3 separate regions of the Homo sapiens genome follow, and all the other regions are reported to be linked to region 2. The links are microRNA targets in miRTarBase. Many come from high-throughput screens and were not tested one by one. Region 2 holds a microRNA gene; each other region holds the end of a gene's coding sequence.
The links. The annotated mature microRNA hsa-miR-4757-5p reads AGGCCUCUGUGACGUCACGGUGU and lies in region 2 at 1,671-1,693, opposite strand. An mRNA with a match to its seed (bases 2 to 7 or 8) in the 3' UTR can be bound and repressed. Matches are read on the target gene's strand: a 7mer-m8 pairs with bases 2 to 8, a 7mer-A1 pairs with bases 2 to 7 and ends in A, and an 8mer does both.

Region 1 (3,254 bases), not on the chromosome of region 2:
TTGTGCGTGCCGTTTTGATTGTAAATATCTTTGGGTACTCTGTCTTCCTTCTTATCCCTCTACTTCCTGCCAGTGTTAACAACCTGAATGATAGTATCTTCCGGTGCTTTCGTTTCCCCATTGTTGTATATGTTTTCTTTTTAAAGGAAGCCCTCCTATGACACTGAAACAGATCCTAGTGAGGGATTGATGAATGTTCTAAAGAAAATTTATGAAGATGGAGACGATGATATGAAGCGAACCATTAATAAAGCCTGGGTGGAATCAAGAGAGAAGCAAGCCAAAGGAGACACGGAATTTTGAGACTTTAAAGTCGTTTTGGGAACTGTGATGTGATGTGGAAATACTGATGTTTCCAGTAAGGGAATATTGGTGAGCTGCATATATAAATTTGACAGATAGCTATTTACATAGCCTTCTAAGTAAAGGCAATGAATTCTCCATTTCCTACTGGAGGATTTATTTAAATAAAATATGCTTATTAAACACTCCTGCAAAGATGGTTTTATTAGTACCCTGGTCATTTTGTTCAAGGAAGGGTTATATTGCATTCTCACGTGAAATATAAAAAGCAAGTCTTGCCCAATAAAAACGCTACATTGTGTGTATTTTTTGTTCAGCTAAGAATTGGAAAAGTATTTGCTTGCCTTTTAAGTTACTGACATCAGCTTCCACCAGTGTAAAAATTGAGTAAAACCTGAAGTTTTGCATAAAATGCAAATCGGTGCCTGTGCTTGAAGGTTGCTGTAGAGCATCTGACCCCTTATTACCACCTTAAGCAATGTATATGCCATGCATTACCATGCACTAATTCAATCACAGGTGTTTCTATCTAGATTTAAATATATTTGTCAATGAATGTGGAATAGAAAATCTAAACATGACAATAATAGACATATCTTTGTATGGTACCAGTTAGTTTTGCCGTGGATCAGATGGTTTATAAAAGTAATAACCATAAAGCAAAAAATAATTTGAAAGCCCGTCTATTCCTATGCTCAATAAAGTTAAGTTTTTCTTCATTAGAACAGTTTTATGATTTATTTGTCTAGGAGTATGTCAGAAAAATCAGGCTTTTAGTAGGAATTACTCCTATTCCCCCTGAAGTCAGGACCAGTGCCTGTGATCTCCATTACTTTATTTTCCTGGAGGTATTAGCCAACACAGTTAGATCAGAGAAAGCAATTGAAGCCAGGCATGAAGGCTGGCGCCCGTAATCCCAGCTACTAAGGCTGGAGGATCACTTCAGCCCAGGAGTTTAAGGCTGCAGTGAGCTATGATGATGCCACTGTACTGCAGCTTGGGTAACAGATTGAGAACCTGTCTCATTAAAAAAAAAAAAAAAAAAAAAGCCGTTAGACACACAGGAAAAATCCAGAAGGGTAAACTAAACTAAAGCTACAATTAATATGGGAATTTGGAAGAAGTGGTAGGATTTAAAATACAGAAACAGTTTATGTATAGGATAGCTATAAGTAAATACTGAAACACATTATGCCTCTGTAATTGGGGTTGACACATGAACAGAATAGCAGACACAATGCATATGAAAGTTACAGAATATGGTAAAAGTGGGGTAAAGATGGGTTTTTAATGATACTAAGATAACTGAAAATAGGCATATAGATATATTCCAAGCCGCCTGACGATCTAATTGTAAAAAGTAAAGCATACAAATACTAGAAGAAAATGGAGGAAAACGACATTATATGTGACTTAAAACCTAGAAGAAATAAATAAAACTATTGATCAATTTTAACTACATAAAAATGTTTATAGGACAAGAAAAACCCCACCATAACCCAAGGCAAACAATGTATTGACAGGATTCCAATAATTAAGAATACTTCATACAAAAAGAAATGTAAATGACCTTTAACATGTAAAGATGCTCACCTTGTTCAGAAGAGAATAAACCAGTGTTTTTACCTTTCACTTGAAAAAGAAGTATAAAAACAACTGTATTGAGTTGAGGCTGTGGAGAAATAAGGACACATATATGGGAATGGAATGCAAAAGTTAAACTTTGGTTAACAAGAATATTTGGGCAGGTGCAGTGGCTCACACCTGTAATCCCAACACCTTGGGAGGCCAAGGTGGGCGGATCACTTGAGGTCAGGAGTTCAAGACCATCTGGCCAACATGGTGAAACCCTGTCTCTACTGAAAATAAAAAAAACTAGCTGGGCATGGTGGCAGATGCCTGTAACTCCAGCTACTCGGGAGACTGAAGGACAAGAATCACTTGAACCTGGGAAGCCGAGGGACGAGAATCACTGGAACCCGGGAGGCAGAGGTTGCAGTGAGCTGAGATTGTGCCACTGCACTCCAGCCTGGGTGACAGAGTAAGACTCTTGTCTCAGAAAGAGTATTTGGTAATAACCATCAGAATGACATATTCATTTATCCTTTGACCCAGAATTTTAACTTCTTTCTGGGCTCTGAAAGGTACATTTAGAAAAATTTGGAATGCTATATGCAAAAGATTAAAAATACTCGTGTCTATTTAACAGGAATGTATTATGGTGCATCCACATGAGGGAGTACTTAAGTCACAAAACAATGAAGAGTTCTATATAACGTAAAATGGTCTCCAGGATAGAGTAAGTGGAAAAGCAAAGTGCAGAACATTTATGGTATACCCACTACATTTGTGTAAGAAAGGGTGAGAAATGTGAATGTATGCACATAGGTGTATTTGCTTATGTTTCAAAAAGAAACGAGTAAACCCAAAGCTAATAAAAATTGTTAGCAGGGGAAGGAAGGAGATGAGGATGGAAGCTATTCTGTGAATTTAACTTTTTCTAGAGTTTTGACTTTAGAACCATCTAAAATTTAACATGACTGAAAAAGTAAAACATGACCCTAAACCTATCAACACATTGTCTTAGTCTATTCCTGCTGCTGTAACAAAATGCCATAGACTAAGAATTTATAAATAATATTTACTTCTTGCACTTCTGGAGGCTGGAGAAGTCTAAGATTTGGCACCAGCAGATTGGTGTTTGGTAAGGGCTTGCTTTCTGCTTCCAGTACGGTGCCTTCTCGCAGTATCAGAAGGGTAAAAGGGACAAACTCTCTCCCTCAAGCCCTCTTAGAAAGGCACTGATCCCATCCATGAGTGTGGAGCCCTCCTGGCCTAATCACCCCTAAGGGCCCCACCTCTTAATAATACCAACGCATTGTGGATTAGATTTTAATGTGAATTTTGGAAGTACACAAAATGTTCAAACTATAGCATGTATATATATCAAG
Region 2 (3,254 bases):
TGGTCTGGTCTGAGGGATCTTCATTAGTTGGGCACTATCCCAATCCTTCTTCCAAGCAGTTCACAAGGTCGCGCGCGGCCCAGGATTATGCCCCCATTCCTGAGAACTGGGGCCTCTGAGTGCGTGGAAGTGGGGCTAGCCAGTAGGTTTGCGGGTGGTGTAGACGGTCTGCGCCCAAGCGGCGCACGCAGGTTGTGGTGTGGTTTGTGCCTGACCATAGCTTGTACTAGGGTCAACTGCAGAATCTTCCTTGGTTTCTTTATGAAGCCCCAGGAGGCTGCGGGCCATGGTTGCTCCAAAACAACCAGAGTGCATGGGTGAACACACACACACACAGGGTGCCCTTCCTAGTCCCTTGGCTCTTTCTGGGATGCTATCCTTGGGGTTGTCTATGGCTGCTCTTCCCTAGCCCCTGACATCCCTCCACCTCCCAGAACACATCATTCCACCTCCCTGAAGATCGAGCCTCTGCAGTTCCCGGGGCCTCAGGAAGCTACAAATGCGGTGAAATGGGGAGGTTTGCCAGCCACGTTAATCCTTTTTGGGTCACCCCACCTCCAGCACTGTGAAAACCCACCCAGTCCAAGGTCTGCAACTGAATGTCAGTATCAAGTGTGCATCCTCAAAATAACAGATTTCCAGTGCAGAATTTTAAATTGGGGATGGGGAATGGAGGGTGGGACAGGATGATGCGCAGCAACTCCCTGGCCCTCTCAGAATGCCCCTATTTGCTCTACTGATGTTTGCTGTTATCCCGGTGGACTCAGAGATCACGTCTCCCTGCAGCTTGTTCTAGTGATTCATAGACTGTGCAGAAACAGTAACTACAGGTGGAAAGGCCGGCTGGGCCTGTGGGCCATCCGACCCTATCCAGGCTACAATTCCCAGGTGATGTGGTTGGTTGATGTGGTTGGAAACTAGTGCCCCAGTTTCCTGCTCATACTCAGTGTGGGTTGCACAAAAAGTGCAATTGAGAGGGTCAGAAATGTTGGGTGGGTTTCCTTGCCTGCCCCAATTTTTCCCCCAATGCATCTCTAGAAAGTCCCAGCTCTTGTCTCCTCTCCAGACCCCCATCACAATAAGCTTCGCTGGTCCCAGTGACTGTGTGGCGCTCAGCGTTGCTGGGGCTATTTTTCAGGAGAAAAAGAGGCCGATGGTGCTGGCCAGGTGGAGTTCAGCTGGGGCCCTTCTCAAAGCTGCTAGGCCTGAAGTTTTTGTGTACGGCTGGGGAAGCTATCTGGCCTAGGACAGCCTCTTGGGCAGGGAGGGCGGAAGGTGCCAGAGACCCTGGGCACAGCCCGGAACTGCCAGATGCTGTCTCCGGTAAGATATCAGGTGCTTCCAGGGAAAAGAACAGCTTGCAGGAGCTTCTTCCTGGGAGAGAGTGTTTCAGGTTCTACCCCCTATTTCCAGAGTGTAGTTAGGGGTTAGGGACCCACTAAAAAATGTTTTCCCGCGTACTTCCTTGCCGCGGAATTCACTGCTCACATTGTGGGGAGGGACGCAATGTGATGCTCTGGGACTCCCTGACGTGACCTCAGCTCCCAGAACCTGAGGACCTGATATCCTAAATCCCCTAGAATCTTGGTGTCCCCATAGCCGGCTCAAAAGAGTCCCGTCCCACCTCTCAGAGCGCGAAGCCTCTGTGACGTCATGGTCTCCTCCCGCAGACACCGTGACGTCACAGAGGCCTCGGGCTGGAACACAAGGCTTGAATGAGGTCCACAGAGGCATTCCATTACGTAACTTCGTGACGTCACAGATGGGCCCCGCCTCGGGCTAACATATCCACACCTCTCAGCCCCGCCCCGCCCCGCCCCGCGAATCGGCCCAGGCAGGCGCCACGAATCGGTTCGTCTCCACTAACACGATCCGCAGACCCGAAGCGTTGGCAGCTGTCCTGAGTGAAGGGCGGTGCCCTGCAGCGTCCTCTTCTTGAATCAGTGGTTTAGAGTGGTCTCCCTGCCCGCGGGGTTTCAGGGCAGCAGTTGCCGCGGCGTACTCATCCCACCCACTTCTGCGCCCACTATGGCCGCGCCCACTGCGGCCCCGCCCTCCTCTCCCACTGCGCAAGCGCCACGCGCAGGCGCAAAAGGAACTCGCAGGCCAGTGCTGCTGGTGCCGGAGTCCGGAAGCTGACGGCGGTGCGTGGAAATCGTCGCGGAGTTCAGTGTTTTGCTTTTGGGGATCACAAACTCAGGGGCACACTGGCCCGGCGGGCGCATCCAGCCGTTGGCGTATGTGTGGGCAGAAAATGCAGACGAGAAAGTGGGTGGCGCTTGGCTAATGCGGGCTGGAGCCCTTGACTTGGAGTGCCCAGTCCAGCGCCGCGGTCCTACAGAGGCCCCTGGGATCTGAGCTGGCGAGGGTGGCGCGGCGGGTCCTACCCAAGGCCAGAAAGTTCGCTGCGGTCCCAGCTCTTTTGGGCAGCCTCTCTGAGGTAGAGCTCTCAGACGGTCTTCAGCCCGGTGGAACGCCCTGGTGTCCCACTCCACCCGTTCATCCCGACTTCCTGGGCCGTCTCTAGAGCCCAGTTGGTAGTTGGGCCCAGTTGGCATATGTTTCAGATGAAAAATTCATTACGGACTTGAGATGCTAGGTTGGAGACAAATCTCATGTCAGTGGCAGAGAAAGAATTCGAAGCTGTGCTTTCATTGAGGGGAAGGGCCAGAAGACCCAGCTCTAGGTTTTTCTGACAAGCACAAGTTTTGGGGAAGTCCCTGTGCTTCACTAGCCTCAGTTTTCTTCCTATAATGGGGGTAGGGCTTTTCCTACCTACCTCATTCACTTTGTGTAGAGTTAAAAGTAATACACATTTTGCCAATAATGTATTCACTGCTTGAACCAAAAACTACCCTAATGTGTTGTAGAACAACTTTGGCATGTATGAAGGCCTTGTAAATGTTGATGATGATGATGCTTAGAAATGCCTCTCAGCATTTTGACGTAGCCTGCCTCCCAACCTACTGTATTCCCAGGAGATACCACCCCCATCTTTATTATAACAGAGGCATCCTGAAATGAAATGAGAGAGGAAGAATATCACTGAACTGGTGGACTTCTTGAAACCCCCGGCAAAAAGCCTTTTTTCAATGACGTAGGGAGCAATGGATTAATCAGTTCACAAATTGTTATGTTTGGTTGGGATGATGTGTCATGGCCCTATGTCAGAGCGCTACTCACCACACGTTTGTGGAACCCAGGGAGTTAAAAAACAACCTATGGCGACTGAGGTGTGGAGCTGGGGAAGGAGC
Region 3 (3,253 bases), not on the chromosome of region 2:
ATGAGGCATGGGTTGGGGCTGGGCTACCCCTCCCAAACTCAGCTCTGTCAAAATAAAAGGCCCTTGTGTCTGCTGCGACCAAGCTTTTCCACTTTCCTGTCTTTCTCCACACTGGTCCCAACTGAGCCCTGTCACCAAGCCTAGCGGCTCCAACTTGCAAAGTGTTTAAGTATGAAACAAAGGCCCTCAGAGGCACCCCCGTGGCTCCATCTCAGTTGCACCTCAGCTGCAATTAGGGTTCTGCTCCCTCGGGTGACTGCTGGGAGGTTCAGGATACCTGCAAATGCCTCACTCCCTCAGCTGCAAGGAGAGACTTCTCCTTTTTATTCGTTTCTAAAATGTGCCTAATCAATACGGTGGAACTCAGCATACCAAAACTGTACGTGAGGATGATGGGGAAAAGGGGGTAAGGGGGTGTTCACTGACAGCCTTATCTGGGCACATCCCCTGGGACAGGACAAGCAGGCCAAGGACCTAGGAAGGAGCACAGGAGGCAGATGGAAGAGGCCTGAGGGAACCTGTGCTTGTTTGCCAGTGTGAGATGCCCACGCAACTTCCTGTCTTCACTTCCTCTTACCAGCACCTACAGGACTTGGGCTGCTTCAGGCTGAACGCTGGGAGACCACTTCCTGTGCTGACACACAGAGCTCCCATCTCCATGAAGACCGCACAGCGCGTGTAAGCCAGCCCAGCTGACCTAAAGCGACATGAGACTACTAGAAAGAAACGACACCCTTCCCCAAGCCCCCACAGCTACTCCAACCCAAACAACAACCAAGCCAGTTTAATGGTAGGAATTTGTATTTTTTGCCTTTGTTCAGAATACATGACATTGGTAAATATGCCACATGCCTTTGGTGGAAGTACAACTGTTGTTATTACTCTATACAAGTATGAGATCAGGGTTAGGAAAAAAAGACAAAGAGGTGATGACAGACACACAGTGGAAACCCCACATCGTCTCATGGCAAACCGAAGAACGGGATGTGGGAAGCTCAGCTTCATTTGACTGCAAAGTCCCAGGGTTTTGTTGCACATTTGCTCATGCACATGGGTGGTGGGAGGAAAGGGGGATAGCAGAGACACACAGAAGAGGGTACAGGGTGGGTGAGAAAGAAAGTAGAAGGGCTAATACCCCCAAAGAACAAGGCCAACTACACCTGGTGAGCCTCAGAGGGACAGAAACCCAGGAATGATTCCTGTGATAGGGCTGGGAGAGCCAAGAGGACGGATTCGCTCCAGGCTTGGGACACATCGAGGACAGTGGTGGTTCTTCTCCAGCGGTGACCCCCTGCATTAGGCAAGGAGGAGCCCAGAGGAGAGTGGAGACCTTCGAGGGGGGCCGTTGGGAGGGTACTGACTGCTTTCTTCCAGCTCTTCAGTCCCGCCCTTGGGCAGGACGAAGGGAATGTGGGAAACAAGGGCGAAAGGAAAGGAAGGATGGTTTTGAGCAATGAAATGCTGCTGCATGGAAAGTGGGCATCCAGACCCTGCCCAGCATGGCCTCAGCCTCTTCCTGTTCGTGGACCGAGGGAAGAAGGAATAAAGGGCCATGGGCATTCTCCGCTCTGTTCCCAGCCTGCCCTCCTCCCCTTGCACCTGGGCTTATCCCACATTAATAGCCCATCCTGAAGCTCAGCAATTGCCCCGAAGATAGGCTGAGCAGATCCCATCCTCAGGTTCCACTGTCTATACACACAAACCATGCAAAGAGGAGGAAGAGAAAGGAGGCAAAGTAGAATTCAGACAGGAAAGGGTGGTTCAAAGGGGAATATACTACAGGAAGAACAGAGAGGCGGCTCTCAAGGAGAGGGCCCCATGACAGCACAGCAATACACAAGCACACCTGACACAGGCTGGCACGCCTCCCCCCAAGGTGGGGCTGGTGGGTCTACATGACTTCTCTGCATCCTGAGGATCGGCCGGGCCCCAGGAAGAACCACTTGCCTCATCCCTGTCTTTGGCAAGTGCACGGGTGGTGTGGAGGAAAGGATTCCATGGGTGTCCAAAGATCTCACACTGCTAACACCCTCACGCTCCTTCATCAACAGGAAGAGAGGAACAGGACCCTCTTTAACGAGGGCAAGGAGTGGCTTCCTCTGAGCTTGTTACTTTCAAATTAAGCACTTGACTCACTGTTTCTCTATAACTAACAGGCAATCTCTCTCTTTATGCCAACAATTAACTGGGAGCTAGGTTAAATTATTTGGCTAGATAAAACTACCAGCTAGATGGATTTATTTGGTGCCCTCATACAGAATGCTGTAGAAAATGTAAAGAAGAGAAAGCTCCTTCCAGCTAGAAGCACATGGGACTGCTTCTAGGATGGAAACAAGTCCTGCTATTTTCACAATCCCTAAGTGTTCTCCAGGCCTCTGGAGAACAAAGTAAAGTTGTAAGATCCCCAAAGACACGGAAAATCCTGGACGAACAGATTAGAAATAACTACAAAAAACAAGTTTTTACTTTCGAAAAGGGTACTGCACTGAAACCAAGTTGGACTTTGGTCCACCCCCAGGACCCTCTTCAGGCCTGGTCCAGGAAGGAAAGCTCCACATGACCAGGCAGTACTGAGTGAGCTGCCATCTTCCCAGCCCCTCCCTAGCTCCTACCAGTGGCCAGGTTTTCTAGAAGTCACCATGGGCACCGATACTCTTCTCCTCCCAAGTCTGGGCAGCTTCATGGGTACTTCGCCTCAGCCACTCCCCTCCCTGCCCCTTCCCTTGGCCTCCAACTCTTTGGGGCTTTGGGGGAACTTGAGAGTACAGAAAAAGCAGGCAGGGAGGAGGCGCCAGCTGTTGCTCTTCGGGTAATGACTTAGATTGTGCCACGAGCAGCATTTCTAGTGTTGAGGGACAGAGTGCAAATGAACGCAACGAAAAAGGAGGAATGGGTGATGGAGAAGCCTGGGCTGGAATGGAGGACGGTGGGTGGGGAAGTGTGTTGAGAGAGCAAACAGAGGGCAGAGGACATGAATGTGGATGGCAATGGACAACAGGGAAGGGGTGGTACATTCTCAAGTAAAAAAGTAGACTGGACACAGGAATCAGGAAGTCCCAGACGGAAAAGAGAAAGAGACAGGAGAAAACAAGAGGGTGAATTACACCAAGTTACCAGACATTCAGGTCTCTCCATTGTTAAGTGCCCCATCCCCATGGTCTCCCTCCAACCCAAGCCAGTGACACACAGCATAGCCCCACTTCCTCAGAACAGGAGGCGCCATCTCCCTGCAATGCGTTGCAGGGGGAAGGCT

Region 1: the mRNA of CACYBP is a reported target of hsa-miR-4757-5p. Seed matches in the 3' UTR shown: 7mer-A1 at 2,088-2,094.
Region 3: miRTarBase lists VAMP1 as a target of hsa-miR-4757-5p. Seed matches in the 3' UTR shown: 7mer-A1 at 2,725-2,731, 7mer-m8 at 2,371-2,377 and 7mer-A1 at 1,501-1,507.

Annotation. Positions count from the first base shown.
Region 1 is chr1:175,009,777-175,013,030 of GRCh38, forward strand. CACYBP (calcyclin binding protein) reads left to right here. Exons shown (of 6, transcript NM_014412.3): 6 at 147-2,251. The coding sequence ends at 303. It overlaps MRPS14 (mitochondrial ribosomal protein S14), which reads right to left. Exons shown (of 3, transcript NM_022100.3): 3 at 3,182-3,254. Among named protein-coding and RNA genes, the nearest start is that of CACYBP, 11 kb to the left of the region's middle. RefSeq lists a silencer at 2,883-3,083.
Region 2 is chr2:19,346,878-19,350,131 of GRCh38, reverse strand. It overlaps MIR4757 (microRNA 4757), which reads right to left and starts at 1,703; the gene lies at 1,627-1,703. It also overlaps a transcript of OSR1 not described here. RefSeq lists enhancers at 1,946-2,075, 2,126-2,395, 2,546-2,605.
Region 3 is chr12:6,461,454-6,464,706 of GRCh38, forward strand. VAMP1 (vesicle associated membrane protein 1) reads right to left here. Exons shown (of 5, transcript NM_014231.5): 5 at 784-3,033. The coding sequence ends at 3,017. TAPBPL (TAP binding protein like) reads left to right here. Exons shown (of 7, transcript NM_018009.5): 7 at 581-863. The coding sequence ends at 696. Among named protein-coding and RNA genes, the nearest start is that of VAMP1, 7.6 kb to the right of the region's middle.